Linked DNA regions of Homo sapiens. The protein of the gene in region 4 interacts with the protein of the main gene of each other region in a pairwise test. Each region holds a gene or a part of one and is shown on either strand. Other genes may lie near its edges. The genes, in order: BDNF, ZDHHC17, DLST and FUT2.

Evidence for each region.
Region 1: the proteins of FUT2 (region 4) and BDNF interact in binary tests that used the Homo sapiens proteins (3 or more experiments, as listed by UniProt).
Region 2: the proteins of FUT2 (region 4) and ZDHHC17 interact in a two-hybrid assay, tested with the Homo sapiens proteins (one large-scale study listed by BioGRID and IntAct).
Region 3: the proteins of FUT2 (region 4) and DLST interact in binary tests that used the Homo sapiens proteins (3 or more experiments, as listed by UniProt).

The regions. Positions count from the first base shown.
Region 1 is NC_000011.10:27,651,527-27,659,277, reverse strand, and holds the end of BDNF (neurotrophic factor BDNF precursor form isoform a preproprotein), read left to right. Parts: exon of another isoform or gene 1-692; coding exon of another isoform or gene 693-713; coding exon 714-1,457; 3' UTR 1,458-4,385; downstream 4,386-7,751. UniProt on the Homo sapiens protein: Important signaling molecule that activates signaling cascades downstream of NTRK2. During development, promotes the survival and differentiation of selected neuronal populations of the peripheral and central nervous systems.
Region 2 is NC_000012.12:76,841,911-76,849,661, forward strand, and holds part of ZDHHC17 (palmitoyltransferase ZDHHC17), read left to right. Parts: intron 1-71; coding exon 72-196; intron 197-1,008; coding exon 1,009-1,071; intron 1,072-3,798; coding exon 3,799-3,892; intron 3,893-4,685; coding exon 4,686-4,769; intron 4,770-6,322; coding exon 6,323-6,480; intron 6,481-7,465; coding exon 7,466-7,560; intron 7,561-7,751. UniProt on the Homo sapiens protein: Palmitoyltransferase that catalyzes the addition of palmitate onto various protein substrates and is involved in a variety of cellular processes.
Region 3 is NC_000014.9:74,894,988-74,902,738, reverse strand, and holds part of DLST (dihydrolipoyllysine-residue succinyltransferase component of 2-oxoglutarate dehydrogenase complex, mitochondrial isoform 1 precursor), read right to left. Parts: intron 4,371-7,751; coding exon 4,240-4,370; intron 2,817-4,239; coding exon 2,743-2,816; intron 2,451-2,742; coding exon 2,367-2,450; intron 1,674-2,366; coding exon 1,506-1,673; intron 544-1,505; coding exon 409-543; 3' UTR 1-408. UniProt on the Homo sapiens protein: Dihydrolipoamide succinyltransferase (E2) component of the 2-oxoglutarate dehydrogenase complex. The 2-oxoglutarate dehydrogenase complex catalyzes the overall conversion of 2-oxoglutarate to succinyl-CoA and CO(2).
Region 4 is NC_000019.10:48,696,999-48,704,749, forward strand, and holds part of FUT2 (galactoside alpha-(1,2)-fucosyltransferase 2), read left to right. Parts: intron 1-5,451; exon of another isoform or gene 5,452-5,956; 5' UTR 5,957-5,958; coding exon 5,959-6,990; 3' UTR 6,991-7,751.

The DNA.
Region 1 (7,751 bases), on a different chromosome or scaffold from region 4:
CTTTCTTCATGACATAAGGCAAGTCTTCTATGGCCTTTGGTTTCCTTACCTGTAAAACAGGATGGCTCAATGAAATTATCTTTCTTCTTTGCTATAATAGAGTATCTCTGTGGGAAGAGGAAAAAAAAAGTCAATTTAAAGGCTCCTTATAGTTCCCCAACTGCTGTTTTATTGTGCTATTCATGCCTAGACATCACATAGCTAGAAAGGCCCATCAGACCCCTCAGGCCACTGCTGTTCCTGTCACACATTCCTGCAAAGGACCATGTTGCTAACTTGAAAAAAATTACTATTAATTACACTTGCAGTTGTTGCTTAGTAACATTTATGATTTTGTGTTTCTCGTGACAGCATGAGCAGAGATCATTAAAAATTAAACTTACAAAGCTGCTAAAGTGGGAAGAAGGAGAACTTGAAGCCACAATTTTTGCACTTGCTTAGAAGCCATCTAATCTCAGGTTTATATGCTAGATCTTGGGGGAAACACTGCATGTCTCTGGTTTATATTAAACCACATACAGCACACTACTGACACTGATTTGTGTCTGGTGCAGCTGGAGTTTATCACCAAGACATAAAAAAACCTTGACCCTGCAGAATGGCCTGGAATTACAATCAGATGGGCCACATGGCATCCCGGTGAAAGAAAGCCCTAACCAGTTTTCTGTCTTGTTTCTGCTTTCTCCCTACAGTTCCACCAGGTGAGAAGAGTGATGACCATCCTTTTCCTTACTATGGTTATTTCATACTTTGGTTGCATGAAGGCTGCCCCCATGAAAGAAGCAAACATCCGAGGACAAGGTGGCTTGGCCTACCCAGGTGTGCGGACCCATGGGACTCTGGAGAGCGTGAATGGGCCCAAGGCAGGTTCAAGAGGCTTGACATCATTGGCTGACACTTTCGAACACGTGATAGAAGAGCTGTTGGATGAGGACCAGAAAGTTCGGCCCAATGAAGAAAACAATAAGGACGCAGACTTGTACACGTCCAGGGTGATGCTCAGTAGTCAAGTGCCTTTGGAGCCTCCTCTTCTCTTTCTGCTGGAGGAATACAAAAATTACCTAGATGCTGCAAACATGTCCATGAGGGTCCGGCGCCACTCTGACCCTGCCCGCCGAGGGGAGCTGAGCGTGTGTGACAGTATTAGTGAGTGGGTAACGGCGGCAGACAAAAAGACTGCAGTGGACATGTCGGGCGGGACGGTCACAGTCCTTGAAAAGGTCCCTGTATCAAAAGGCCAACTGAAGCAATACTTCTACGAGACCAAGTGCAATCCCATGGGTTACACAAAAGAAGGCTGCAGGGGCATAGACAAAAGGCATTGGAACTCCCAGTGCCGAACTACCCAGTCGTACGTGCGGGCCCTTACCATGGATAGCAAAAAGAGAATTGGCTGGCGATTCATAAGGATAGACACTTCTTGTGTATGTACATTGACCATTAAAAGGGGAAGATAGTGGATTTATGTTGTATAGATTAGATTATATTGAGACAAAAATTATCTATTTGTATATATACATAACAGGGTAAATTATTCAGTTAAGAAAAAAATAATTTTATGAACTGCATGTATAAATGAAGTTTATACAGTACAGTGGTTCTACAATCTATTTATTGGACATGTCCATGACCAGAAGGGAAACAGTCATTTGCGCACAACTTAAAAAGTCTGCATTACATTCCTTGATAATGTTGTGGTTTGTTGCCGTTGCCAAGAACTGAAAACATAAAAAGTTAAAAAAAATAATAAATTGCATGCTGCTTTAATTGTGAATTGATAATAAACTGTCCTCTTTCAGAAAACAGAAAAAAAACACACACACACACAACAAAAATTTGAACCAAAACATTCCGTTTACATTTTAGACAGTAAGTATCTTCGTTCTTGTTAGTACTATATCTGTTTTACTGCTTTTAACTTCTGATAGCGTTGGAATTAAAACAATGTCAAGGTGCTGTTGTCATTGCTTTACTGGCTTAGGGGATGGGGGATGGGGGGTATATTTTTGTTTGTTTTGTGTTTTTTTTTCGTTTGTTTGTTTTGTTTTTTAGTTCCCACAGGGAGTAGAGATGGGGAAAGAATTCCTACAATATATATTCTGGCTGATAAAAGATACATTTGTATGTTGTGAAGATGTTTGCAATATCGATCAGATGACTAGAAAGTGAATAAAAATTAAGGCAACTGAACAAAAAAATGCTCACACTCCACATCCCGTGATGCACCTCCCAGGCCCCGCTCATTCTTTGGGCGTTGGTCAGAGTAAGCTGCTTTTGACGGAAGGACCTATGTTTGCTCAGAACACATTCTTTCCCCCCCTCCCCCTCTGGTCTCCTCTTTGTTTTGTTTTAAGGAAGAAAAATCAGTTGCGCGTTCTGAAATATTTTACCACTGCTGTGAACAAGTGAACACATTGTGTCACATCATGACACTCGTATAAGCATGGAGAACAGTGATTTTTTTTTAGAACAGAAAACAACAAAAAATAACCCCAAAATGAAGATTATTTTTTATGAGGAGTGAACATTTGGGTAAATCATGGCTAAGCTTAAAAAAAACTCATGGTGAGGCTTAACAATGTCTTGTAAGCAAAAGGTAGAGCCCTGTATCAACCCAGAAACACCTAGATCAGAACAGGAATCCACATTGCCAGTGACATGAGACTGAACAGCCAAATGGAGGCTATGTGGAGTTGGCATTGCATTTACCGGCAGTGCGGGAGGAATTTCTGAGTGGCCATCCCAAGGTCTAGGTGGAGGTGGGGCATGGTATTTGAGACATTCCAAAACGAAGGCCTCTGAAGGACCCTTCAGAGGTGGCTCTGGAATGACATGTGTCAAGCTGCTTGGACCTCGTGCTTTAAGTGCCTACATTATCTAACTGTGCTCAAGAGGTTCTCGACTGGAGGACCACACTCAAGCCGACTTATGCCCACCATCCCACCTCTGGATAATTTTGCATAAAATTGGATTAGCCTGGAGCAGGTTGGGAGCCAAATGTGGCATTTGTGATCATGAGATTGATGCAATGAGATAGAAGATGTTTGCTACCTGAACACTTATTGCTTTGAAACTAGACTTGAGGAAACCAGGGTTTATCTTTTGAGAACTTTTGGTAAGGGAAAAGGGAACAGGAAAAGAAACCCCAAACTCAGGCCGAATGATCAAGGGGACCCATAGGAAATCTTGTCCAGAGACAAGACTTCGGGAAGGTGTCTGGACATTCAGAACACCAAGACTTGAAGGTGCCTTGCTCAATGGAAGAGGCCAGGACAGAGCTGACAAAATTTTGCTCCCCAGTGAAGGCCACAGCAACCTTCTGCCCATCCTGTCTGTTCATGGAGAGGGTCCCTGCCTCACCTCTGCCATTTTGGGTTAGGAGAAGTCAAGTTGGGAGCCTGAAATAGTGGTTCTTGGAAAAATGGATCCCCAGTGAAAACTAGAGCTCTAAGCCCATTCAGCCCATTTCACACCTGAAAATGTTAGTGATCACCACTTGGACCAGCATCCTTAAGTATCAGAAAGCCCCAAGCAATTGCTGCATCTTAGTAGGGTGAGGGATAAGCAAAAGAGGATGTTCACCATAACCCAGGAATGAAGATACCATCAGCAAAGAATTTCAATTTGTTCAGTCTTTCATTTAGAGCTAGTCTTTCACAGTACCATCTGAATACCTCTTTGAAAGAAGGAAGACTTTACGTAGTGTAGATTTGTTTTGTGTTGTTTGAAAATATTATCTTTGTAATTATTTTTAATATGTAAGGAATGCTTGGAATATCTGCTGTATGTCAACTTTATGCAGCTTCCTTTTGAGGGACAAATTTAAAACAAACAACCCCCCATCACAAACTTAAAGGATTGCAAGGGCCAGATCTGTTAAGTGGTTTCATAGGAGACACATCCAGCAATTGTGTGGTCAGTGGCTCTTTTACCCAATAAGATACATCACAGTCACATGCTTGATGGTTTATGTTGACCTAAGATTTATTTTGTTAAAATCTCTCTCTGTTGTGTTCGTTCTTGTTCTGTTTTGTTTTGTTTTTTAAAGTCTTGCTGTGGTCTCTTTGTGGCAGAAGTGTTTCATGCATGGCAGCAGGCCTGTTGCTTTTTTATGGCGATTCCCATTGAAAATGTAAGTAAATGTCTGTGGCCTTGTTCTCTCTATGGTAAAGATATTATTCACCATGTAAAACAAAAAACAATATTTATTGTATTTTAGTATATTTATATAATTATGTTATTGAAAAAAATTGGCATTAAAACTTAACCGCATCAGAAGCCTATTGTAAATACAAGTTCTATTTAAGTGTACTAATTAACATATAATATATGTTTTAAATATAGAATTTTTAATGTTTTTAAATATATTTTCAAAGTACATAAAATCTGGGGGTTCTGGGTTTTTTTCTCTTTACTGTAAAACAAACATGAAAACGTGTTTTATTATAAATACGTGTGTTCCTTGCTTTAAGACTAATCTGACTAGTTTTAGTAATTAAACAGCCCTCCAGAGAGGATACTTATTTGAAAGCCTGGGAGGCCAATCCTGCAGTCTGTGAGCTTCTGAGAAGTTGTAGGATTGGATCTGTCTTCCATGGTGGAAGATGGGAGTGTCATTTTCTCGGACACTTGAAAGTTTTACCCCTTTGAAGTGATATACTTTCATCAGATACCAAACCATGTATCCTAGCAACATCAGGATCCACGAATCACGGCTGGCTGGCTGGCTCTATTTGACTATAAAATAACTGTTAAAAAAAATCAAAGTAGGTTTACTTAGGGATAATGAGAATAAATTGGCCCAAATTTAGAAAGTCAAGTACTGGGGAAAAAAGTAAAAAAAGAAATTCAATATTTGGAGACAGGTCACATATCCTCGGTTTGGAAGTGGTGCCATTTGCAGTATGTATTTGTATCCATAGCACTGATTTAATTTTTGTACGTGGAGCACACAGATTTTATATCATAGTACCCACAATCTAACAGATTGCTAGGATTTCTAAAAGGATTTGCCTCCGTGATGGCTGCCAAGCCGCTGGGTAATTTAGTTAAAGTGTTTAAAGTTATCACTAAATCTTAGGGAAATAAATGGAAGGATTTTAAATCAGAGAAGGGGCCATTAAGGAAAAAAAGCATCTGTTCTTACTCTTCAGCCTCCCCATTTGAACACTGACAACCCATCCCATAACGTGGTGAACTATATCTGTGCAATGTATCATTTCTATTTCTAAACATACACACATGGTTTCCTCTTGTATTGTCTTATAAATAAGGATCAGGAAAGTCATAACAAACATTGACTTGTGTTGTGTATATGGAAAAACAGATCGAATGAGATGAATTACTCTATCCTAATCTGTCCAGTGAACTTGAAAAGTACTCTAAGAGAAGCCCTTGACTGCCAGTCATGACAGCCCAGCCATGGACTTAGAACTTTGATAAACTTCAGGCTTGACCAATTTTCATAGTCAGAGGACTAAAATATTTTTTAAATGGTTGAGTAAAAAAAGTAAAAATTAAACATGACATCCAAATTACTTGAAGTTAAACGAGTTTGGTAAACATGACTGAAAGTTTTCATTAGAAGATGAGGTTGGAGAAAAAAACAAAATAGAGACATCTACTAAATTATCCTACTTGGAGTTAATAGGAGTAACCAATGTGTACTGCATTCATTGAGTAAGCAGTTAAACTTGTTTAATTACTAAGATGCCAGGAAATAACTCAGATCATTGCTTTGATCTGTTGTTTTTCACCATACTGATAAGCCTCTGTGGTCATTAGCTGTGTCTATGAAATCTTTTTATGAGCTGTACTAATTCAGTGAATAATAAGACAGTTCGAAATGAGAATCTGAACTAAGTCTTAGAATGGGTCAGTGTTAAATTGTTCCTCATTCATTTAAGTGACTTCTAGATCTGGATAAAATGTCAAACACTTTTTGAACTGCAACAAATGGCTTCAGGCATTGCCTCAGTTCAGCCAGCACTCCCAATAGTGTTAAGGTTTAAGGTTATTGTAAAACATACTTGTCTCCATCATGTTCTAACATCAAGCCTGGTCTACAAGTTAAAGTAGAAATGGCTGCATATTTTGATAAGCCATTGTTAAATAAAGACTGTTAATTGGGATAAGAAACAATATACGTGTACATAAATTTAGGAAGATGAAGCATTTAGCTTGCAAAAAGCCATTCACAGATTTGATCCAACCTCAGAATGTTGACCAGCAAAATTAGTATTTTATGGAACATAGGCCATCCTTTTAGCTGTGGGTTTTTAAACTGTGGTTTTAAAGGTTGGTTGGCTGCTTGGTTTGGTGACAAGCGGGGGTAATGGTTGGGAATCTGACTTTTGTTGGTTACATTGAACTAACTGGTGGTTGGTGAACTCCCCACCTAATAGCTAAACTTAGCAACTAGAGTAGGTGAAGCCACTCCAAACCAGCCCATGTTTATGGACATTCCTTCTAATAAACACACTGCCTGCATGTCTATCCCCAATCTTGTGAGTATGATCATCCATTCTCTCAATTCTGGCCACCATTTGAATTATTTGTAGGGAAAAAAAAGCAAACTCCTTGCTTTTTAATATGTGATTATTTGCAGTAAATTACTTGAAGACTATGTTTAAATATTAACAGAAAAAGCACTGTGATCTTACACATTATCATAATTGAGAAGACCCATTTCTGTGGCACTCTGTAGGATTTCCATAGGCCTTTACCTCACCCCCACACCCTAATTATTTACAAGGCACAGACCACCAGATTAGGAGCTCCCCAGCCTGGCATTTGCTTTTCTAACAACAATCCTGTGTGCTTGGTAATGTCAGTAGCATGGAATTGTAAAAAGCAGGCCTTCCAATTAAACCTCACCACACAAACAATAAACAAGACCTTTGCATTTAAGTGTGAGCTGCTATTTTATATCTGGAAAAACAAAAGTCCTTTCCTTTAGAAAAATAAGCTTATCTGTCCTGAAAAAAGCCTCACACATAATGTTGTAGTTAATGACAGGACTTGTCTCAAGCCTGTAAATGACCAAAAAGTGTTAGTTGAAATCCTGAGCTTGAGGTGTATGTTCTACATTTAGAAAGGACATAAAGATGCTTCTGCAGCTCTGCACTTTGGTACTGTACTCTATTTCAAATGGTTCCTTAGAAACCAGGGGCTGGTCTGCATAGAATGGCTGAACCCAGGGGAAATATTTTTGTCTGGCTTAAGTGCTCACAATTTGAAAAAATCCATGTCAAGTACTGCAGTACACATTTAAATTTATTTAGTGAAGCTGCATTCTCCATTGAGCCCTAACATTTAAAAAATAGTTGCTCAACTGGGATTTGGTGCATATCAGGAAGGAAAGAGGAAAAAGACATAAAATAGAAACCTTACCCAGCAGAGACCTGCTCCAACAGATACCAAGCAGTGTTTACTTGGAGATAACAGTACCCATACTCTCCTCCAGTTAGACTCATGGAATGATCTCAAAGTGTGTTCTGCAACCAGCATCTGCATCTCTGGGAACTTTTTACAAATGCAGACTCTCAGTTCCCATCCTAGACTTACTAAATAAGAAGCTCTGGGGGTAGAGTACAACAGTCTGAGTTTTAACAACCCCTCTAGGTGATTCTGTGCCCACTCAAATTTGAGGATCATTGGACTAAGGGGATTAAACAGCCTTTCACATGTTCTAGATAATAGGAAGATAGCACAACCCAAGAATTTGAAACTGTAGATCTGATCCCAATCAT
Region 2 (7,751 bases), on a different chromosome or scaffold from region 4:
ATAGATTATAAGTTTATATATAATAGTAATTCATTTATCATTGCTTCTTTAGATTCCTTAACCTTAGGCACATCTCAACTTTTTATTTATCCATCTTCCATTCCTTGCCAATAGTGTTGCACTTTTCTACAATTTTGGAAAATCTTGGAAATCAGATCCAGGGATTATTAAAGCAACAGAAGAGCAAAAGAAAAAGGTAGCAAAATACCAACTAAGTCACTTGTATTTAACTGCCAGATTATCAGTATTTACAGCAGACATTAGAGGACAGAGGAATTAACTATCGTTTAGAATGTAAAGAAGTTTTAAGCTAAATTGAGATTATGTATCTTTTATTTGGTGCTCATCCTTGGTGCTCTTGTGATGCCTGTCCATAACACTTCCATGACATTTTATAATTTCGTGTTTCTCTCCCTTACAAGACTGCTGTGATTGCTTTGAGGGGTGAATACGGTGTCTTAAACATCTCTGTAAATCTCCAGGAAATAATTTGCATTCAGTAGATGTTTGCTGAATGACTATGTAAACTAGAAGGTTAATAAATTGGTTGATAGTGCAGGTACACCATCCCAGTAGCTAAAATATTTGTATATACCATCCAGGGCATCCCTTTCTTATAATGCAGGTAATTAGGAAACCAATATTATAATCTAACAATGTTGTGTATTTAGAGAACTGGACTAGAAGCATTTTAGATTATTTTAAGAGCTGTTTTATTTAGTCTCTAAAAACAGGACAAATTTTGATAAGTTATTCCAGTCCACAATTGACTAAGACAATGGCAGATTCTTATGGTCTAATCCCCTTTTTTCTGGGCAGCATAGAGATTGCTACCCTGTATTCTTCTTGCAATGAAATAGCAGTAAATAAAAGATTTTATTTCTCTTTTTGAACTCAAAACATCAGTAAATTAAAGATGAAAATCATGTTTATTGATTCATAGTGGTGGCAAAAGAGTTGGTGAGCATTGTTCAGTTTTGAATTAAATATTATTTTTTTAATTCACAGACAATAGTTGAACTTGCAGAGACAGGAAGTCTGGACCTCAGTATATTCTGCAGTACCTGTTTGGTAGTATTTTCTTCTTTGTTCTTCCCTCCCTTCTCTTCCTCCTGACAGTGGCATAGCATAGCGGGTATGGGGTGTGGGGAAAAGGAATAATTATTTTCAATGAACACATTCCCTGCTTCTTGGTATAAGAGGAAAGATGGTTAAAGGATGTCTGCTTCCCAAGGCGCTTATTCCTCGATGGTAGGCCTTGACTGTACTTTTGATTCGGAGGTGCCGTTTATTTGTATTCATTCTCTTTCTCTTTTCTCGCTTAAAATGTTAATAAATTAAAAACTAAGTAATAAAGTATTTCAGATCAAAGATTTATAATGATTCCCTAATAGATTGTTTTCTTTACTACATTTTAAGAAAATTTATACTTGTATTTAAAAGCCACATGGGAAAATCCATTAGATAACTGTTAAGACAACATGGCCTCTAAACAAGTTCAATTTGAGTAGGTGGTTTTTTTTGTTTTGTTTTGTATCAGAATGTTTATGTAACTTTGAACACTGTTTTATCATAGATTTTTAAAGTGGTCATCCTCATCCAGGTCATAGGTAAAGATATATATGAAATTACTAGTATTTATTAATAGAGTCAGGTATAGCACTATTGAGATTGTTTATTATTATAGACATTAATTTTCTGTAGGATAATACTCTTATGTTTAAATTATTTTTCACTTAGTTTTTATAATTAGTATTTGTGAAAAATATATATACTGCCACAGTGCTTAAATTATGTTTTTCTACATGGAAATTGAAATATTCCAAAGTCATACATAAAACTAAATGCTCTTTTATACTTATACACTGCAAGTGAGCTCATGTCTTAGCATCTGATTAATAATAAAGTCATTGACTTCATTTAGGATTATGGAATGAAGTTTTGAAACAGTTCTAATTCTGAAAATTCTTTATTACACTTAATATTCTTTGACCAGTTATGATTTTGAATATTCAAAATATATACAGCTTCATGTTTGGTAGCAACTTTAGGATACCGACCAGATTCTTTTATATATTCCGGCATTCTGAAAACAGTTTTTGTTTCTGTGCTTTACAATGGGTAATTTACAAAATTGATATTCTTTTTCTTAATATTTAGAATGTTTTAATACACTGCTGTTCTGTGGAAATATACTGTTCCACAAAGTATGCAGTGCTGATGTACTTGCCATATGGCAAACAAATTATATAGTCATTCAATACAGATAGCAGTTTCATTGTCAAATACATATTTGATGGCAAGAATAAGACTAATTTTGTCATCATAGCATAAATGTTTTATTATATATTATTTATAAGCCACATACTTCTTGTTGTAAAGAAGATTTCCTATTATAAAATCTTGCAGATCAGCAGAGGTAGTTGTCATTATATGGGTATGCTTCACTTTGGTAAGTAGACAAGTCCCTAAGGCTTGTAGATCAGAGCTTTCTTAAAAACGAATTACTTTGTTGATTGCACCCCTGCACTCCAGCCTGGGCCACAGAGTGAAACCCTGTCTCAAAAAAAGAAAAAAGAAAGGATTACTTTGTAAGTGATCCAAGGAACCTTGAGACCAAGTCACACCTTAACCAGTTAGTCTGTTTTTCAGATTTTTGACAGTGTTGCAGCTGAGGGTTGGAAGTGGGGATAGAAGTTGTTTGAATATCCTGCTGCCTTCTCCTAAGTAGATTTAGTCTAACAACTGTGGTGAAGAATAACTTACCCTTTTCTTTATTCCACAGATAATTTTGGTAGATGTAAGAACTGTGTATTCACTGTGCCTTTTCCTTGGTACCTCAAAATAGTGTGTAACTTTATGCAAACTAATGGAGAAATGGCAGTGCTTTTGTTGAAACGCTGAAGTATATTTATAAATTTTTTTCTGGCAAGAGTTAATAACTGCAGCTCTTTTATCATATGTCTAGCATTAGGACTGCCAGCCCTTTGAAGATCACCAATGAGTTCTTGTATTCACTTGGCTGATTTAGAGTAATGTAGGTTTTAAAAACCATTTCAAAATGCTTGAAAAACAGACATCATAAGCATGGATTCTTTATTGCCTGTCAATAGCTGAATAATGAATTATATGGGGTTTTTTTTTTTGCAAGAAATAGTGACTTCTTAAGCATGTTCTGCATTCTTAAATATGGTCATTTCAGCAGGAGAAATGCTGTACCTTAATCTGAGATCTCAGAAGGCACTTTACTGAAGAGAAATAGATGTGTACATATGGGTTTTTGCTGGATTTGTTAATTTGGGGAAGACAAATATTTTATTGATGATTTTGAATTTTAAGAGCTTTTTAAATTCACTTTTAGCCTGACCTTCCTAGTAAGGAATAATTTTATTTTATTGAAAAACACCAATATCATGACCATTAATCATAATGGAACATCATTTAGAAGACTGGAGATTGATATGTTTTTATTACTCAGAAATTTGAGGGATGTGAATTAAACATAGCATCATTCATCAAATCAAATTGGTAATTCTTAGCTTTTGTAAATTGATGGTTCAGTTCCATTCTTAAGAGCATATTTTCTAGAGTAGCCTCATTCTTTTATTCTTTGTTTTTGCAGTTGAAATTTTATTAAACAATAGTGACTTTTGGTTTCATTCATTTGGAAACCTTGATATAATCTTGTTTAAAAAATATAGTTTTATTTTTTTATAATTATATTTTGAGAAAATAAATAGTCAGCTTTTCTCTCTTAGTATAATGCCTTTCATAATCCTTTAACATGCCTATTAACAGATACGAAAACCGGTGAGGTCCAAACATTGTGGTGTGTGCAACCGCTGTATAGCAAAATTTGATCATCATTGCCCATGGGTGGGTAACTGTGTAGGTAAGTTGTATTAGTAATTTCTTCTGTATCATTCATTTAAGTTACTTTAGGTAATGAATAAAGTATAATATTAAAGTAGGCAATAGAAAGTTTATTACTCCACGCTTCATTTTCTCAGTTATCTTCTGGTTGACAACACAGCAACTCAGTTGAGAGAGGGAGGGAAAAAAATTACAAAATTAGTGGCTGATACCTTTTCTCTGTCAGTTCTATCTGGTGCCTACTCTTGATAAGGAGGCAAAATTTTTTTTTTCTAGTTAAACTAGAGAGATGAAGGCGGTAATATTTGAAATGATATTATGTGCAGAGGTAGAGAGGAATGACAGATAAGAACAGTACACACATTAGTGTTCAAGAATGGTATAGTCTAAGGAGAGAAACTACATGGTTTGAGACATGCCCCGGAGATTTTATGAGGTGACAGGAAACATTACAAAGATTGTTTACCTCTGTTGAAGAGAAACCTTTGGATTGTAAAGTTTATAAAAGTAAAGATAAAATAGGGCTATTTTAAACCTCACAAAGAATAGGATTAGAGGTCAGAATTGTGATTTATTTAGTTCTTTGGGACTTGAACACCATTGTCATCATTATATCTTTGTGTGTAATTGCAAGCATTCTTATTTAAGATTTTTATTAAAACATTTTTCCTGAAAACCACTTTATAAAATAATGAATGTATGTGTGATTATCATCAAAACTGTAGCACACCTTTCATGGCATACCCCTCAAAGGTGCATTACCCGTTGTTTTTTTCTTAGCTGAAAAACCTTGCTTCTGTGTCGTTCTTCAGGTGCAGGCAACCATAGATATTTTATGGGCTACCTATTCTTCTTGCTTTTTATGATCTGCTGGATGATTTATGGTTGTATATCTTGTGAGTACAATTAGTTTTCGGTCTTTTTAAAACAAATTTCTGCATACTTAGATTATACTTACCACACTAACAAATTACTATAATGACAAAGGTCGTTTAACTAAAATTATGGTTTGGACACCTTATGAAGCACAAAAGGGAAAAAAGATACAGCTCTATCAATTATGTCCAATATACAGTGTAAGCAAACAGTTAGCAGTTAACCACCTTTTAATACTTGTGTCCTCTGAAAAACATATTGGTTTAATAGGCTTTGAGAAGCTTCTGGGTGAAATACATCAACATTTTCCACATCATGTGCTTGCTTTACTATAGTAGCTTATAGATTAAGTGATTGTCTTAGTTCTGTTTCTTACCAAGCAGTTGGGAAAATATACTTAAAATTAAATTTGCAGAGAATTTGAAATATTTTGAAAAGTAAGGTATAATTATTGCCTATTAGAGAATATTAGTAAATATCAGAAGTTACCTTTTTAAGAATAAGTTGTTATTCCATCATGTGGGTTTTATACCTTAAAGGAAATGATAGATTTTTGTTGCATTGAGAATGCAGTCTGGAAAGAGTTTAAGTGGATACGTCACTTACGATGCCTCAGGGCTTGGTGGTGCTTGGCATAAAGATGTATTAGATCCTCGTTTAAATACAAGTCTTGGAAGGATGATTTTCTAGTCTTCCTGCCCCACAGATAGTAAAAATAATCAGTGTTATTGCCCTAATGAACCAAAGGAGGTTACCACCTCAGTTAAAGATTAATAGGAAGATTTGGTCAAAGAACTTGACCTAATTTCTGGCCCAGCACACCTGAGGAGAATACTTTCTTGCCAACAACAGCAGTATTTTATAGCAACTCTCCTACAGCAGGAGATTTTGTATTAGGAAAGGCCTACCTTGGCTGGGCATGGTGGCTCATTGCCTATAATCCCAAAACTTTGGGAGGCAGAGGCAGGTGGGCCAGTTGAGGCCAGGAGTTTGAGACCAGCCTGGGCAACGTAGGAAGAGAGACCCCATCTCTACAAAAAATACAAAAATTAGCCCGGTGTGGTAGCGCATGCCTGTAGTCCCAGCTACTCAGGTGGCTGAGGTGGGAGGATTGCTTGGGTCCAGGAGGTCGAGGTTGCAGTGAGCCTTGATTGAGCCACTGCACTCCAGCCTGGGTGACAGAGCGAGACCTTGTCTGGAAAAAAAAGCTCATGTCACCATCCTATTATGTTATATGCCCTCTTTCAAAAAAATCTCTTTCATATATCCTCTCATCTTTGTGTAAAGAAAATGTTTTTCTAAGTATTATGTGATGCAATACCAATCAAATAAAATTGTTAATTCTGAAGATACAGTGATTTTTTTTTAAGATTGGCTGCTCCTTTTCCATTTCTGTGTTTTTTCACTGAGATATAATAGGGTTATTTAAGAGTATAAAGACATTTGCTATTGAATGTCATCAGTTAAATCTAGACTGTTTGACTATGTTTTCTAAATGGTGCCAGCACAAATGCCTATATGAGGTGCTTGGATGATTATTGAGTAAATACGAGTACTTCTGTTCTGGCTTTAGACTGGGGACTCCACTGTGAGACCACTTACACCAAGGATGGATTTTGGACATACATTACTCAGATTGCCACGTGTTCACCTTGGATGTTTTGGATGTTCCTGAACAGTGTTTTCCACTTCATGTGGGTGGCTGTATTACTCATGTGTCAGATGTACCAGGTATGTGCAAAGGCATTCTTTTTAGTGCACTAAGTGAAAACTCTTCCATCCTTGCATAAAAGATAATAATATATTCTCTTCCTAACCACTCCTGCTCTTCAAATATTCATTTTATTTTTCAATTTAGTTTTCCTTTCTACCTCACTCTTTTGCCCCTTCCTCTTCTCATATTGTGAACTTTTGAATTTTAGTACTTATCTCAACAGAAATTTTAATCTGTTATTCCTGACTTAAATACATCCAGTTGAGTATGTGTGAGCTCAGATTGATGATGACATTAATTTTGTGTTTTTAATGGTATTTTTATTCACAAATACTAATATTTATTCAAAAGCCTTTTTTTAATTTTTAAAAGCTCATTCTCAGAGAGGCTGATAGGGAGGTTGTCTGTGCAGGAATAGCGCCTGTCCATGCACAGTGTCAAGTAACCTGTCTTTAAATATTTTCCACATTTAACTGGCTACTTTTCACAGTCAAATGATACCACGTAAACTAGTTCTGATGATCTCCTGATGGAAAACCAAAAACAGACTTCATTGTTTTTATCTTTATCCTAGTTTTCTTCAAATTAATTTTTTTATATTAAGTATTTAGAAAGAATAATGGTTTGTGCAGCCTGGCATGGTGGCTCACACCTGTAATCCCAGCACTTGGAAGCCGAGGTGGGCGGATCACTTGAGCCCAGGAGTTTGAGATCAGCCTGGGCAACATGGTTAAACCCTATCTCTAAAAAAAAAAAAAAAAAAAAAAACCCAACAAAAAAAAGAAAATTAGCCGGGCATGGTGCATGCGCCTGTAATCCCAGCTGCTGGTGGGGTGGGGGTTTTGGGGTGGGGGGAGGTGGCGGGGGTGGAATCACTTGAGCCCACCCAAGAGGGAGCTGAGAATTCGCCATTGCATTTTAGCCTGGGTGACAGGGCAAGGTCCTGTCTCAAAAAAAAAAAAAAAAAACAAGAATAATGGTTTGCTTTTTCTTTCCTCTTAGATATCATGTTTAGGTATTACTACAAATGAAAGAATGAATGCCAGGAGATACAAGCACTTTAAAGTCACAACAACGTCTATTGAAAGCCCATTCAAGTATGTACATATTTATAAATTTAATATTTTACCTGGTCATAAAAATTTTCTTACTAACCAGACTCTTTTACTTAGTGATATGTAAAATAGCTTTTAAACCTTTTTAAGATTTCTGTAGAAATAGCATCAGTTCACCATAATAACAACAAAACAGAATTCATCACATTAACTGTATATAATAAAGTTGTGAT
Region 3 (7,751 bases), on a different chromosome or scaffold from region 4:
TCCTCCTAGAAGTCTCTGCAGAACAAACTTTCAAAAGATAGGAACTTAATCACATGGTCCCCAGGGGTTTCTCTATAGTATACCAGCACTAGGGAAAAGCAAAATCATCTTTGCAGAGAGCTGATGGAAGAAAGGCAGGAATATGAATGAGCATCCATTAAGGCTCTCTCTCTTAAGCCTAAGGAATTAAGATATTCGAGGCTATGAGACAGGTGCAGAGAGGGAGAGCCTGGCAGGAACGCCAAGAAAAGACCTGTGACTGCTGGTTACACAGTGCTCTGCTTCCTTGCTTGAGGCCAACAGCATGTGTCTGCCTGTCACCAGGCTAACCCGGGACCCATGAGGGGACAGGGAGAAGACTGGTTTTCAGTTCCTGCATGATCAACTTGTAGGGTGTGTGGGTTCCTCCTAAAGATCCAGGAGGAGGACTCTGGGATCCTCTACCGCTGCCTTGATTTTGCGGAGGAAAGTCACAGCCTCTCTGCCATCAATCAGCCGGTGATCATAGGTCAGTGCCACGTACATCATGGGCCGCACCTCTACCTACAGAGAGGAAAGGTAAATAGGTTTGTCTCCAGCAAGCCACAGCCAGCCTCGCTGAAGGAGATTTAGCACAGCCCATAAGAAAGTTCCTAATTCCAGAGCCTTTCCTATTGATGTTGCCTCTGCATATTTACAGTATTTCAAAGACCAGGACTTACCCTCAGTGCAAAGCTTCCCCACTCAGAAACAAAGTTTGCCAAGAAAACTGTCTTCTCACAACTGCCTTTTATTTTTTAAAAACATACTCTGCCCTCTAACGCATCTGCTGCCTACAAGGAAAGTTTTCCCTTCAGTTCTGGCTGCCTGTACTTGCTTCTCTCTGGGGTTAGAATTTAAAAAAAAAAAAAAAAATTAAGCCAGGGTCTACAAATTCTGGAATTGTATGTGTAGCTGGGTGTATGGGCATTTTCCAGGAAGATCTACAGACTGTGGTTTCACACAGGAGTCAGTAACCCAAAAGGATTCTAAACACAGGAGTTCCCAGAAAGCTTTTTTGATACCAACGTATCTTCTAAGGGCCAGCTCAAGCCCCTTTTAATACTTAATTCTCTGAACTCCCGGGAAATTTACAAGCTTTATCATACAACTTGGCAGCTCACAGACTGACATGCATAATTGTCATCTGTTTCCCAGGGGCAAGGGACCACGTTTCCAACTATATCCCCCACTCCATAGAAGCAAACAAGCCTCCTCAGCTCAGTGGTTCTCAAACTTGAATATGCATCAGGATCATCTGCACTTCTTCTTTAAGTCTGGGATGGGGTCTAAGAATATGCATTTCTAATAAGGTCCCAGATGATGCTGATCCAGACCACAATTTGATAATCAGTGCCTTAGCTATTAGAAACTAAGAAATGGAACTTAGGCCTGAAATTATAGTTAATGTTTTACAATTAGCATTTAGTTGGATTTCCCTTTCATCGAGACCTAGCCACTAGGACCTTAGAAGTGACGGTTCCTACCTTGCCTCCTATAGCCACTGGCCTGTCAAAGATGCCATGCATCCCCAGGATGGCAGACTGAGGGGGGTTGATAATGGGTGTTCCAAAGAGCGAGCCAAAAACGCCTCCATTGCTAATGGTGAAGGTACCGCCATCCATATCTTCAATGGCAAGTTCATTCTTTCGGGCCTAAAAACAGATTTCATAATTGAAATATCAAGCCAACCCAGTTTCCTTCACCTAAAGTCAGTCCATAATCCCAGCGCTTTGGGAGGCCGAGGCAGGAGGACTGCTTGAGGCCAGGAGTTCAAGGCCAACCTGGGCAACATAGTGAGACCCCCATCTGTATAAAAAACTTAAGAATTAGCCAGGCATGGTGGTGCACACCTGTAGTCCCAGCTACTTGGGAGGCTGAGGCAGGAGAATCGCTTGAGCCCAGGAGTGCAAGGCTGCAGTAAGCTATGACTCTACCACTCTACTCCAGCCTGGGCAACACAGCGAGACCCTGCCTCTAAAAACAAAAAAGCAAAGGAAGTCCAGAAAGCTTGTATCGAGATCGATGGCACAAGCGCTAGCTTCCGTGTGACAGTTGTTCGGCTAAGGTGTCTATGACCAGTGCTCCACCAGAGAAAAGGCACAATTTCATACAGTTGAAGACTTCAAAGATGATCTTTTCTAGCAGGTCTCATCTGATGAGATTTCAGTTACCAGAGCATGGTAAACTCCACCAGATATATAAAATACTTAGCTCTCATGGGCAACTGCTTTTCTCAGGGGCTATGCACTTGACTTTCCATGAGCACTGCTTGCTAGTGAGCCCAGCCTTCTGAAGGCTCTCTTCCCTCGCCTGCTTAGCAGCTTGTATACATCTTTCTACTTTACCTTCTCTCCCAGTTCAGTGATGGTCCGTTCAATATCTGCAAAATTCATAGCTTCCACATTCCTGATGACTGGAACCACCAGACCCTGAAGGGGGTGAAAAGCTGTTTTCAGTTGCAAATTAATAGTACCTTTTATAGTTAACAACTCCCTTGATTCAACCCATGGTATGCCCTCCCTAGAATACCTTCATTACTCAGTGTGATTAACAGAAAGTGTTAAAAGAATGCGGCATGGTTTAAAAGAAAAAAAAGGTTACTTTTACTAACTCCCTTCTAAAAATACAGAATTAAAGAAATGATTTCTCTTGTGTGATCTCCTTCACACAGATAAGGTGAGGGTCTAAGACCAACATTCCCCACCTCCTGCCCCAACATACCCGTGGGGTGGCCACTGCAACACTGATGTCAATATAATCCCTATACACCACCTCTTTGGTTGTGTCGTCAATCACTATGAGAGAGAAAATACATGTTACATACAACTCCCCAGGAAGGCCAAGACTAATGAGGTAATATGTGCATTAACAGAGTAAAAATCTGCAGAGCTTGATACAGTGTGGGCTGACCAACCACCATGAACACCACTGCATTATGCATGGCAGCTGGCATTCCACTTACTCCCATCCCAAGTATAGTATCTCCCAAGTCCCTGACTGAGCCTGGGCATAGGAGCATCCATTTCTTTGGCAGCCCTAAGAAGGGCTCAACACACTGGCTTCCATAGGATAGGTATGCACTAAACTCTCGTTAAGTAGCTCTAGTCAAGCCCTCCTTTAGCAGAGAATGACTAGGGTTAACAAATGTTCCAAAAAAGGGCAAATTAGCAAAGGAAAAGGGATATAGAGATACTACCCATTCTCTGCTTCCAACTCTCAACAAGAGGAAGAGGGGAGATCCAAGAGTAAGCGGGGTGATCTGGCTTTGAAATATGCTACCTCAAGAGATGGCAAACCAGCATCTGAAAATGTACACCTAGCAACTAATGGGAAAATAAAGGCTTGGGAATCATTTCCGCAGAAAGTCCATGTTGTATTGTTAGATAAGACATCCAGAGGAAGCATGTAATGTGAAAAAGAGGCCACGAGAACTTTTGAGAGCCGCCTACATGTGTGGGCAAGCAGAAGGGGGCCACTGAAAAAGATGAGAGCCAGTCAGGGAGGCATGAGAAGAATGGGAAAAAGAAGAGGTATACATTTGGGCAAAACAAAGATGGCCTTCTACCTCCCTAGAGCACCACTCAACAGGAGGGACTAGGGCTTCTACTTCTAGACCTTTAGGGCCCCTGACACTGCTGAGGATGGCAAAAGTAGCACTGACCCCTCTCCAATCTCCCAAGGAACAGAGAAGTGTGTCAACAGGAAAACAAAGTGCTTGTTAGGTCAACACTACAATGACGTAGGTAAGTAAAAAGGAAAGAAAATAAGCACCAGGTCCATGAGAGGCCAAGCCGAAGCTCCCAGTGAGGCCCATCGACCTAAGATCAAAGGTCAGCCAGGAGCCTACACCAACTGTGGAAGTCAGGCCCCAAGGTAACAGGGCCTGTGGAGCTGGGGGAGGGGAGGAAGCCAGAACACGTGCTTCCACCTTGACAGGAGACAGCCTGGAGAGCTGGGCTATCCCAGAACTGCCTGCTGCCTGAGCAGCTGCCGAGCTGTACACTGGGAAGAGAAACTGTTCTGCCCAGCTGGCGGGTAGAAAGTAATCATGATGCTGCTTCAGGAAGGTGAACCAAGAAATCCCTGGGGAAGATACTGATATTTCTATAGGTAGCAAATAAAAAGCCTTGGTCTGTTGATCCTCTGCATGTGGGAGCAGGTCTGTGCTCATACACCTACCTCCCAGGACCTCTCCAATTCCAGCCACAAGCAACTCACCTGCATTTACAACAGGCTGTTCCTGCAAGGCAAAGGCTGAGGCCTTCACAAATGCCGACATGAAGCCTAGTTTGAGGTTATGTTTCTTCAAAAAAGCCTCTTTGTGCCGAGCCCTCATCTCCTGGATGTTACTGTGAAAATATTACAAAACAAACTGACCACAAAGCCTGCATTTTGACTTTCACACAGGTTTCTCAATCCATATACACAATTAGGTGAGAGCTTTTCCCTCACTCTGGACCATTACCTTAGTTCAAGTTTTGAAATAGTCTACCTGAGGTTAACACAGTAACTCTGTTCTTTTACAAAGAAATCTACAGGAATCAGGCCCAATCTGTCTTTAAGGTGGGTTGATCTCTTTACAGGGCTCCTTCATGGTCTAGAAGTCACAGATTTCAGTGACACATCATATGAACAAGAGATCACACAGCACACCAACATCCTTGCCCTGAATAACTGAGCTATCCATCCTGAAAAAAAATTTTTTAAAGTATAAACAAAATCTACAAAATAAGCAATATTCTTTTTATTTCTTGTTAGAATACAAAAAAAAAAAAAAAACCCCACCAAATCTGAGTATAACTCCCGTGTGATATTCCTCCTATCTCTTGATTAGTGGAGACTAAAATAAACAGCTCATGGGTACATGAGGCTCCATGCGGGAAAAAGCAGTCATGACTCTGCAGGGAAGGGTATAACCCAGTGTTCTTTCAGGCCCACGGAAAGTCATATCCGTTCTTCATCTTTCCAGGGTTGGCAGTTCCATCCACTTATTCTTCCAAACAGGTACTAACACCTTACTACATGTGAGGGTCAGGGCCAGGTACCAAGATACAAAGCTAATTAAGACATAGTTCTTGCCCTAAGATTAGTTTAATGGCTGTGATTTCCTTGGTATTTAGAAAAGTGGCCACTTGTGGTTTAGGCTGGTTCCCTTCAGATTAAGCAGCAAGCCTTCTGAAAAGCCTTTACAACATGAGCAGCCTTTATTCTTTTGGGACTGGTTTTTTTTCAATGACACATTGCAGAGTTAGTGAGAAATGGCTTTCCCATCACTTTGCTGCATAAACCTCAGTATTTATCGGAATGCAGTAATGCAGTTCTACGATGAAAATTGAATTTAACTTTATCTCAGGGCCAAATGCTCAGTTCTCCCTTTCTCCCTCTAATGGCCTAATTCGACATTAGCATGAAAGGTAAGATGTGGTACAATTTTAACAGCCCCCTTCAGATCTTTTGTTTTTGAAAAAGGAAGTTTTTCCAAGGGGGACTGATTGGGTTTAAAATGCTTGTTTTCCTGATTCTAACCTTATTTAGTGCTAGGATTACCACCCTAAAGACATTACTGGTTCCCAAGACACAAGAGCTGCAGAAGAGGGAAAGAGATGTGATAAACATCTCTGCTCTCAAACCTGCCCAAATGTTATTGTCTGGTCATTAAGTAGCTTCTATTTCAGAGCTCTGCCCTTGGAGGCAAAGGCTGGGACAATAGAGGAAGGGAGAAGGTCTCAGAAAGGTCCCTTATGGGTTAGCTGATCAGCACAAGACCCAAAGGGCACTCGATCTAAACCAAATTAGGCTGCAGCAAGACCGCAGGCCATTGTTAAGTGACACCTTGATTAGCTGCTGAAAGGAGATCCAGCTATTACGCTTCCTTTCCAATCAAAGCTGTTGGGCCAACTGCATCTTTCAGGGCCACAAATATTTACATGTTTTGTCTTAAGAAACTGGGTAGAATTTCAAAGTCCAATTCAATTTGTGTACAATTTGGCCCTAATGCACTGAAACATAAGCTGCAGCCTTTGTGATTCATTAGTCAAGGTCCTTCCCCTACATCCTATGAACAAGAGAGAAATCTTTGGCTTGAATGTCATCCAGTCTCTTCGGAAAGTTTCCCAACAGAATGGATGACATCTAGTAAAACAGGTCACAGAGCCCTACTCTGAACAATGCCACAGCGCACTATCAAGAAAACACTCCCTTCTCCCTATTTTTCAAACCCTTTCCAAAGAAAAGCAAATTTCTCTAATGAAAAGTAGATTCGCAGACTAAACCCTCAGGACAAAAAGAAAGAAAGAGATGACCTGAGACTTGACTTGCTTCCTGAATTAAATATAAACTCCTACCCTGGCATTCAAAACATTCTGAAATAAGGATCCAACCTTCTTTACCATTCTTTGCTATACAAAATCCTCACAACAGAAATGATTTTTGACAATTTCTCAAATGTGTCTTCTACTTTCCCATCTCATGGTCTACACTGTTAACATCATCTGGAATGACCTTTCTCCACAAGGCTGACAAAATGCTAGTCACTCTTGAAGACCTGTTTAAAAATTCTTTTTTGGCCAGGAATGGTGGCTCATGCCTGTAATCCCAGTGGGAGACCAAAGCAGGAGGATGGCTTGACCCTAGACGTTCAGGAGACCAGCCTAGGCAACACAGCGAGACCTTGTCTCTACAAAAACTAAAAAAATTGGCCAAGCCTGGTGGCACATGCCTGTAGTGGTCCCAGCCATTTGGGAGGCTGAGGCAGGAAGATCACTTGAGCCTCCCAAGTAGCTGAGACTATAGGTCCATGCCACCATACATAATTTTTTTTTTGAGACACAATCTCGCTCTGTTGCCCAGGCTGGAGTGCAGTGGCGCGATATCAGCCACTGCAACCTCCTCCTGGGTTCAAGCAATTCTTGTGCCTCAGCCTTCCGAGTAGCTGGGATTACAGGCATACGCCACCATGCCTGGGTAATTTTTGTATTTTTAGTAGAGGCAGAGTTTCACCACGTTGGCCAGGCTGGTCTCGAACTCCTGGCCTCATGTGATCCACCCACCTCAGCCTCCCAAAGTGTTGCGATTACAAGCGCAAGCCACCGCACCCAGCCCTCACTTGGCTAATTTTTAAATTTTATGTAGAGACAGTCTTGCTATGTTGCCCAGGCTGGTTTCCAACTCCTAAGCTCAAGCGATCCTCCTTCCTCACCCTCCCAAAGCTCTGGGATTATAGGCACGAGCCATGGTGCCCAGCGTCTATCCCCACTGAATTCCACAGTACAGTACTCTGTATACAGTACGCACTCAAAACACGTTTGTCAAATTTCTCTTCCTGACAGTGCTGATACTTGAACACATTGAAATCTTGAAGAAAACAGGTAAGTCAACAATTAGCTCACTACAGAAATGGGCATACCTAGTGAATTAGTACCTTTGGTTAACATTCTAAGGTTATTTAAAAACACAACTTGTTTTCCATTTCACTGTCAGAGCTGGGTAAAATGAAAGACAAGCCCAGCCTATCTTTGCCTTTTCATCCACTCGATTCTGAATCACTTAGGAAAATATGTAAGTGACGGGGTCAAACAATCCTCCCATCTCAGCCCCCCAAGTAGCTGGGGCTACAGATGTGCACCACCACACCTGGCTAATTTTTGTATTTTTTGTAGAGGTGGGGTTTCGCCTTGTTACCCAGCTGGTCTTGAACTCCTGGACTCAAGCAATCCGCCTGCCTCGGCCTC
Region 4 (7,751 bases):
GGCGCTGGGTGTAGGGGACAGAGGGGAGAGGAGGAAGCCGGGCCGCAATAGAAAGACGTGGACGGGGCTGGACGTGGTGGCTGACGCCTGTAATCCCAGCACTTTGGGAGGCCGAGACAGGCGGATCACTTGAGGTCAGGAGTTCGAGACCAGTCTGGCCAACATGGAGAAACCCCGTCTCTACTAAAAATACAAAATTAGCCAGGCGTGGTGGTGCATGCCTGTAATCCCAGCTACTCGGGAGGCTGAGGCAGGAGAATCGTTTGAACCCGGGAGGCGGAGGTTGTGGTGAGCCGAGATTGTGCCATTGCACTCCAGCCTGGGGAACAAGAGCAAAACTCCGTCTCAAAAAAAAAAAAAAAAAAAAAAATCTCAGTAAGATAGACCAGGTGTGGTGTCTCATGCCTGTAATCCCAGCACTTTGGGAGGCTGAGGAAGGAGAACAGAGGACCTCCTGAGGCCAGGAGTTTGAGATCAGTGTGGGCCACATAGCAAGACCCCCTCCCCACCATCCCTACAAAAAAAGCAATTCAAAAAAAATAATGCCTTCAGGCAGAATGGGAGTGGTGCTTGGTTCAAGCCTGACATAAGTGTGAGTTTGGGGCACAAATTCTGCTCTGAATACCAGGGACAGCCCATGTAATACAGCATTTCCCTTTGTGCCCACGCAGCCCTAAGGGAGGTGTGGTTTGTTGTTGTTGTTGTATCTTTTTGAGATGGATTTTTGCTCTTGTTGCCCAGGCTGGCATGCAATGGTACAATCTCGGCTCACTGCAACCTCCGCCTCCCAGGTTCAAGCGATTCTCCTTCCTCAGCCTCCCAAGTAGCTGAGATTACAGTCATGAGCCACCATGCCTGGCTAATTTTTTGTATTTAGTAGAAATGGGGTTTCACCATATTAGTCAGGCTGGTCTCGAACTCCTGACCTCAGGTGATCCACCCGCCTCAGCCTACCAAAGTGCTGGGATTACAGGCATGAGCCACTGCACTGGCTCTTTTTTTTTTTTTTTTTTTTTTTTGAGACGGAGTCTCACTGTGTTGTGCAGGCTGGAGTGCAATGGTGTGATCTCAGCTCACTGAAACCTCTGGGGAGGTGTTGTTTTTATCCCTCCCCACAACCCCCTGTTGATGGACAGACAAGGACAATGAAACACAGAGAGGTAAAAGCCCTGGGTTAAAGTCACACAGCACATAAAAGGTTCCTGATCATGCCGTGCAGGGCATCTCGCCAAACCTCAAAAATTCACAATCTCATAGCGCAGCTTGCTCTGTGAGGCCTCCCCACCTCTTCCTTCTCTCCTTCCAGGCTCCAGTCAAGGTCAGTGCCCAGCTTCCTGCTCTGGGCCACTCAGCAGCCACCTTCCTCCTTCCTGGGTAAGGAGGTAGGGAGCTACCAAGGAGGCAGGGACATCCGTGTAGAACATTCTGCTTTTCTTTTTTCTTTTTTTTTAAGATAGAGCCTGACTCTGTCGCCCAGGCTGGAGTGCAGCTGTAGTGTAATGGCACAATCGCAGCTCACCACAACCTCCATCTCCCAGGTTCAAGTGGTTCTCCTGCCTCAGCCTCCTGAGTAGCTGTGATTACAGGCATGTGCCACCACGCCTGGCTAATTTTTGTATTTTTAGTAGCGACGGGGTTTCTCCATGTTGGTCAGGCTGCTTTCAAACTCCTGACCTCAGGTGATCCGCCCCCGCTTGGCCTCCCAAAGTGCTGGAATTACAGGCGTGAGCCACTGCGCCTGGCCTAATTTTCTCTAAAATAGAGACAAGTTCTCACTATGTGGTCCAGGCTGATCTCGAACTCCTGAACTCAAGCAATCCTCCCAGCTCAGCCTCCCAAAGTGCTAGCATTACATGTGTGAGCCATCATGCCTGGTCCCTGTCTGTTTCATTCTCCCTGTCTCTCTAGTCCTGCCTCTCTCTGTGTCTTCTGGTCTTTTTCTCTATTTGTCTCTTCCTCTGTCCCTTTTATCATCTCTGTCCCTTCCCTCCCTCCCTCCCTCCCTTCCTTCCTTCCTTCCTTCCATAGGTGAGAAAAAGTAGCATCTTTTCCTCACCTATCACAAAGTTTGCAGCTGGGGCACCTACAGTAAAAGGTTAACAGACACAAGCATAACAAATGTATTTAAGGCAAGTGTTGACATGGGAGCCTTCAGAAATGAAGGCCTAAAGAAACAGGGAAACCTGGGTGGGTTTTTTGTTTTGTTTTGTTTTTAGATGGAGTTTTACTCTGTCGCCCAGGCTGGAGTGCAGTGGCGCGATCTTAGCTTACTGACTGCAATCTCTGCCTTCCATGATCAAGTGATTCTCCTGCCTCAACCTCCCCAGTAGCTGGGATTACAGGTGCGCGCCACCATGCCCAGCTAATTTTTGTATTTTTAGTAGAGAAGGGGTTTCACTATGTTGGCCAGACTGGTCTCGAACTGCTGACCTCAGGTGATCCACCCACTTTGGCTTCTGGAAGTTCTGGCATTACAGGCGTGAGCCACTGTGCCCGGCTACCTCCCGTTCTATGATCTATGGTTTAAACGCTACATTTGACCACTATCAATACTCCCAGTATCAAAACTGGGAAACCTGGGTTCTTCACCCAGAGCCTAAAACGAACAGCATTCTTTGCCTTGTGGGTGACAATAGCAAACATTTACCGCCTGTGTATATGTGCCAGACACTGTTTTAATCCTCAGAGAGGTGATGTCACTTGCCCAAAATCACACAGCTCGTGACTGTGAGTCTGAAATTGGCCAGAGCTTGTGCACCTAGCCACTGGTGGTGATGTGTCTTTGAGTCATCGAGTCCAGCATTCTGTGTTGGACTTAGTGAAAGGATATACTTTTGTAGTGATGAGAAAGGAGCTTTATCTAGAATTTGTGAGGCCAGGCATGGTGGCTCACGCCTGTAATCCCAGCACTTTGGGAGGCTGAGGTGGGTGGATCACTTGAGGTCAGGAGTTTGAGACCAGCCTGGTCAACATGGTAAAACCCCGTCCGACTAAAAATACAAAAATTAGCCAGGTGTGGTGGTGCACACCTGTAATCCCAGCTACTCAGGAGGCTGAGGCAAGAGAATTGCTTGAACCCAGGAGGCGGAGGTTGCAGTAAGCCAAGATGGCGCCACTGCACTCCAGCCTGGGTGACAGAGCAAGACTCCATCTCAAAAAAAAAAAAAAAAAAAAAAGAAAAGGAAAAGAAGTGAACTGGTTCAAAGACCATAATCATACATATCACACAAGACTGCAAGCGGACCAGGGTCAGTTAATTTAGCGGCTCCACAAAGTCATCAGTCACCTGAGCTCCATCCATCTTCACATGCTGTGCTACCATTTATTTTATTTTATTTTTTTTTTTGAGACGGAGTCTCGCTCTGTCTCCCAGGCTGGAGTGCAGTGGCGCGATCTCGGCTCACCGCAAGTTGCGCCTCCCAGGTTCATGCCATTCTCCTGCCTCAACCTCCTGAGTAGCTGGGACTATAGGCGCCCACCACCACACCCGGCTAATTTTTTTATATATATTTTTAGTAGAGACGGGGTTTCACCGTGTTAGCCAGGATGGTCTCGATCTCCTGACCTCATGATCCGCCCGCCTTGGCCTCCCAAAGTGCTGGGATTACAGGCGTGAGCCACCGCGCCCAGCCAGCTACCATTTCTTAGCTGTATCATCTCACGGTCCCAAAAGGGCTGCTACACATCCAGCCATCACATGCAGATAATTTCTTTCAAAAACAGCAGAAAGAGGCTCGTTCTTGTCTTGGTCCCTTTTGAAGAATGAATGAAACCTTCCTAAGCCTTCCAGCAACTCCCCCCACAACTCCGATGGGTAGGAATTGTCACATAACCATGTGGCCCGATAGGAGGCAAAAGAAATGAGACTTCTGGGATTAGTTTAGCCTCAGATTCTGCAGCTGAGAAGTTGATCAGCCACCTCTGAAGGACAAGCAGCTTGCAGAAAATTAGGGTGGTGTTACCAAGGAGAAAAGGGGAAATGGCTTTAGAGTAGACAACAGGGATGCCCTGAGGGGTTGTGTAGGTTGTTCACTGCACGAAGTCCCCTGGTCAAGAAGGTAAGCGGGGTTTAAACAGACCCACAGTCTACTCATCAAACCAGGTGTCCTTGGCATTGTGTCCACCCAGAGAGCTCACTATTTTCTTTTCTTTTCTTTTCTTTTTTTGAAATGGAGTCTTGCTGTGTCCCCCAGGCTGGAGTGCAGTGGCATGATCTTGGCTCACTGCAGCCTCCGCCTCCCGGGTTCAAGCAATTCTCCTGCCTCAGCCTCCCGAGTTCAAGCAATTCTCCTGCCTCAGCCTCCCGAGTAGCTGGGATTACGGGCGTCCGCCACCACACCTGGCTAATTTTTGTATTTTTAGTAGAGACAGGGCCTTGTCATGTTGGCCAGGTTGGTCTCCAGCTCCTGACCTCAGCTAATCTGCCCACCTCGGCCTCCCAAAGTGCTGGGATTACAGGCGTGAGCCACCGCGCCCGGCCACAACTCATCTTTTAGAGCCAGCCTACACTTGTCATAGGCCATGGCCGATGAATGGGAAGTCCACGGTGGAGCTGGGTGTTCCTCTCAAGTTCAACTGGCTGCGGCCAGGAGGGCAGGCAGGCCAGGTGGACAATTTCCCTTCAAAGTGGATACAGGCAGGACATGCAAAGATGAATATCTCTGGCACTGGACTCTGGCAAGTAGGAAAATAAAAACAAAAGATGAACATCTTGGGCCGGGCGCGGTGGCTCACATCTGTAATCCCAGCACTTTGCGAGGCTGAGGCAGAAAGATCACGAGGTCAGGAGTTCGAGACTAGCCTGACCAACATGGTGAAACCCCGTCTCTACTAAAAATACAAAAGTTAGCCAGGCGTGGTGGCGGGCGCCTGTAATCCCAGCTACTCAGGAGGCTGAGACAGGAGTATAGCTTGAACCTGGGAGGCAGAGGTTGCAGTGAGCAGAGATCGTGCCATTGCACTCCAGCCTGGGTGACAGAGATTCCATTTCAAAAAAAAAGAACATCTCTACAAACTGGATCACCAGTAAATAATAGCTACATATACTTGTACTCACCATATGTGGACACCCACATATGTACACTCAGTCGATAAACACCCACATTTAAACATACCATGTGGGCCAGGTGCAGTGGCTCACGCCTATAATCTGAGCACTTTGGGAGGCCAAGGTGGGAAGATCACTTGGGCCTAGGAGTTTGAGACCAGCCTGACCAACATACTGAGACCTTATCTCTACAAAAGAGAATTTGTTTTTAGTTAGCTGGGCGTGGTGATGTGCACCTGTAGTCCCAACTACTCGGGAGGCTAAGGCAGGAGGATTGCTTGAGCCTAGGAGGTCAAGGCTACAGTGAGCCACGTTCTCACCACTGCACTCCAGCCCAGGTGGCAGAGCAAGATCCTGTCTCAAAAAATAAATAAAAAATTAATAAACAAAAAATGCATACAATGTATAGATACACAAAGTGTATATATATACATATATATGTATACACATTCACATATACACACATGCTGTGTTCACAATCACCTAGATGACATATGTATGTGTATACATACTTACACATATACCCTTACATGTACACGATATATCTCTACCCATACACTACCATGTACACATGTCCATTTGTACACAGCTGTATATGTACACACACAATTTTGCACACACCTGTATATGTATACAATGTATGGATCCCCATATCCACATTACACACAATGTGTACGCATCTACCTGTGTACACACACCCACCTATGAACACAATGTAGACACATCTGTATAAACACACTTGAGATACATGCCTGTGCACATAGGCAAGTATGTGCCAAGTATTTACACACCTGAAGTAGAAGCACACACACACCCACACTATGCCTGCACACCACCGCATGGCCACGTTCACCAGCGCCCCGGGCCTCCATCTCCCAGCTAACGTGTCCCGTTTTCCTCCCCTGACAGCCATGCTGGTCGTTCAGATGCCTTTCTCCTTTCCCATGGCCCACTTCATCCTCTTTGTCTTTACGGTTTCCACTATATTTCACGTTCAGCAGCGGCTAGCGAAGATTCAAGCCATGTGGGAGTTACCGGTGCAGATACCAGTGCTAGCCTCAACATCAAAGGCACTGGGACCCAGCCAGCTCAGGGGGATGTGGACGATCAATGCAATAGGCCGCCTGGGGAACCAGATGGGCGAGTACGCCACACTGTACGCCCTGGCCAAGATGAACGGGCGGCCCGCCTTCATCCCGGCCCAGATGCACAGCACCCTGGCCCCCATCTTCAGAATCACCCTGCCGGTGCTGCACAGCGCCACGGCCAGCAGGATCCCCTGGCAGAACTACCACCTGAACGACTGGATGGAGGAGGAATACCGCCACATCCCGGGGGAGTACGTCCGCTTCACCGGCTACCCCTGCTCCTGGACCTTCTACCACCACCTCCGCCAGGAGATCCTCCAGGAGTTCACCCTGCACGACCACGTGCGGGAGGAGGCCCAGAAGTTCCTGCGGGGCCTGCAGGTGAACGGGAGCCGGCCGGGCACCTTTGTAGGGGTCCATGTTCGCCGAGGGGACTATGTCCATGTCATGCCAAAAGTGTGGAAGGGGGTGGTGGCCGACCGGCGATACCTACAGCAGGCCCTGGACTGGTTCCGAGCTCGCTACAGCTCCCTCATCTTCGTGGTCACCAGTAATGGCATGGCCTGGTGTCGGGAGAACATTGACACCTCCCACGGTGATGTGGTGTTTGCTGGCGATGGCATTGAGGGCTCACCTGCCAAAGATTTTGCTCTACTCACACAGTGTAACCACACCATCATGACCATTGGGACGTTCGGGATCTGGGCCGCATACCTCACGGGCGGAGACACCATCTACCTGGCCAATTACACCCTCCCCGACTCCCCTTTCCTCAAAATCTTTAAGCCAGAGGCAGCCTTCCTGCCGGAGTGGACAGGGATTGCCGCAGACCTGTCCCCCTTACTCAAGCACTAATGCTGGCCCATTCTTTGAGACCTTTTCTCCTTCTCTGCCTCCCTCAAGATGAGTGCCCGGGCATGAGAAGCACATGGTTCCATGAGCAGGACCCATCTCTCTTCTGTGAAGATGCGTTGGGCTGCAAGTAACAGAAATCTCAGTGAACAGTGGCCTGGCGTGGTGGCTCATGCCTGTAATGCTCGCACTTTGTGAGGCCAGGGTGGGTGGATCACTTGAGGTCAGGAGTTCAAGACTAGCCTGGCCAACATGGTGAAACCCCATCTCGACTAAAAATACAAAAATTAGCCAGGCGTGGTGGTGCACACCTGTAATCCCAGCTACTCGGGAGGCTGAGGCAAGAGAATCACTTGAACCCAGGAGGCGGAGGTTGCAGTGAGCCAAGATGGTGCCGCTGCACTCCAGTCTGGGTGACACAGCAAGACTCCATCTCAAAAAAAAAAAAAAAAAAAAGAAAAGAAAAAGAAATGAATGGGTTCAAAGACCATAATCATGCATATCACATAAGACCAGAAGTGGCCCAGGTCCAGGGTCAGTTAATTTAGCGGCTCCACAAAGTCATCAGTCACCTGAGCTCCATCCATCTTCACATGCTGTGCTACCATTTCTTAGCTGTATCATCCCATGGTCCCAAAAGGGCTGCTACACATCCAGCCATCACATGCAGATAATTCCTTTCAAAAACAGCAGAAAGAGGCTCGTTCTTGTCTTGGTCCCTTTTGAAGAATGAATGAAACCTTCCTAAGCCTTCCAGCAATTTC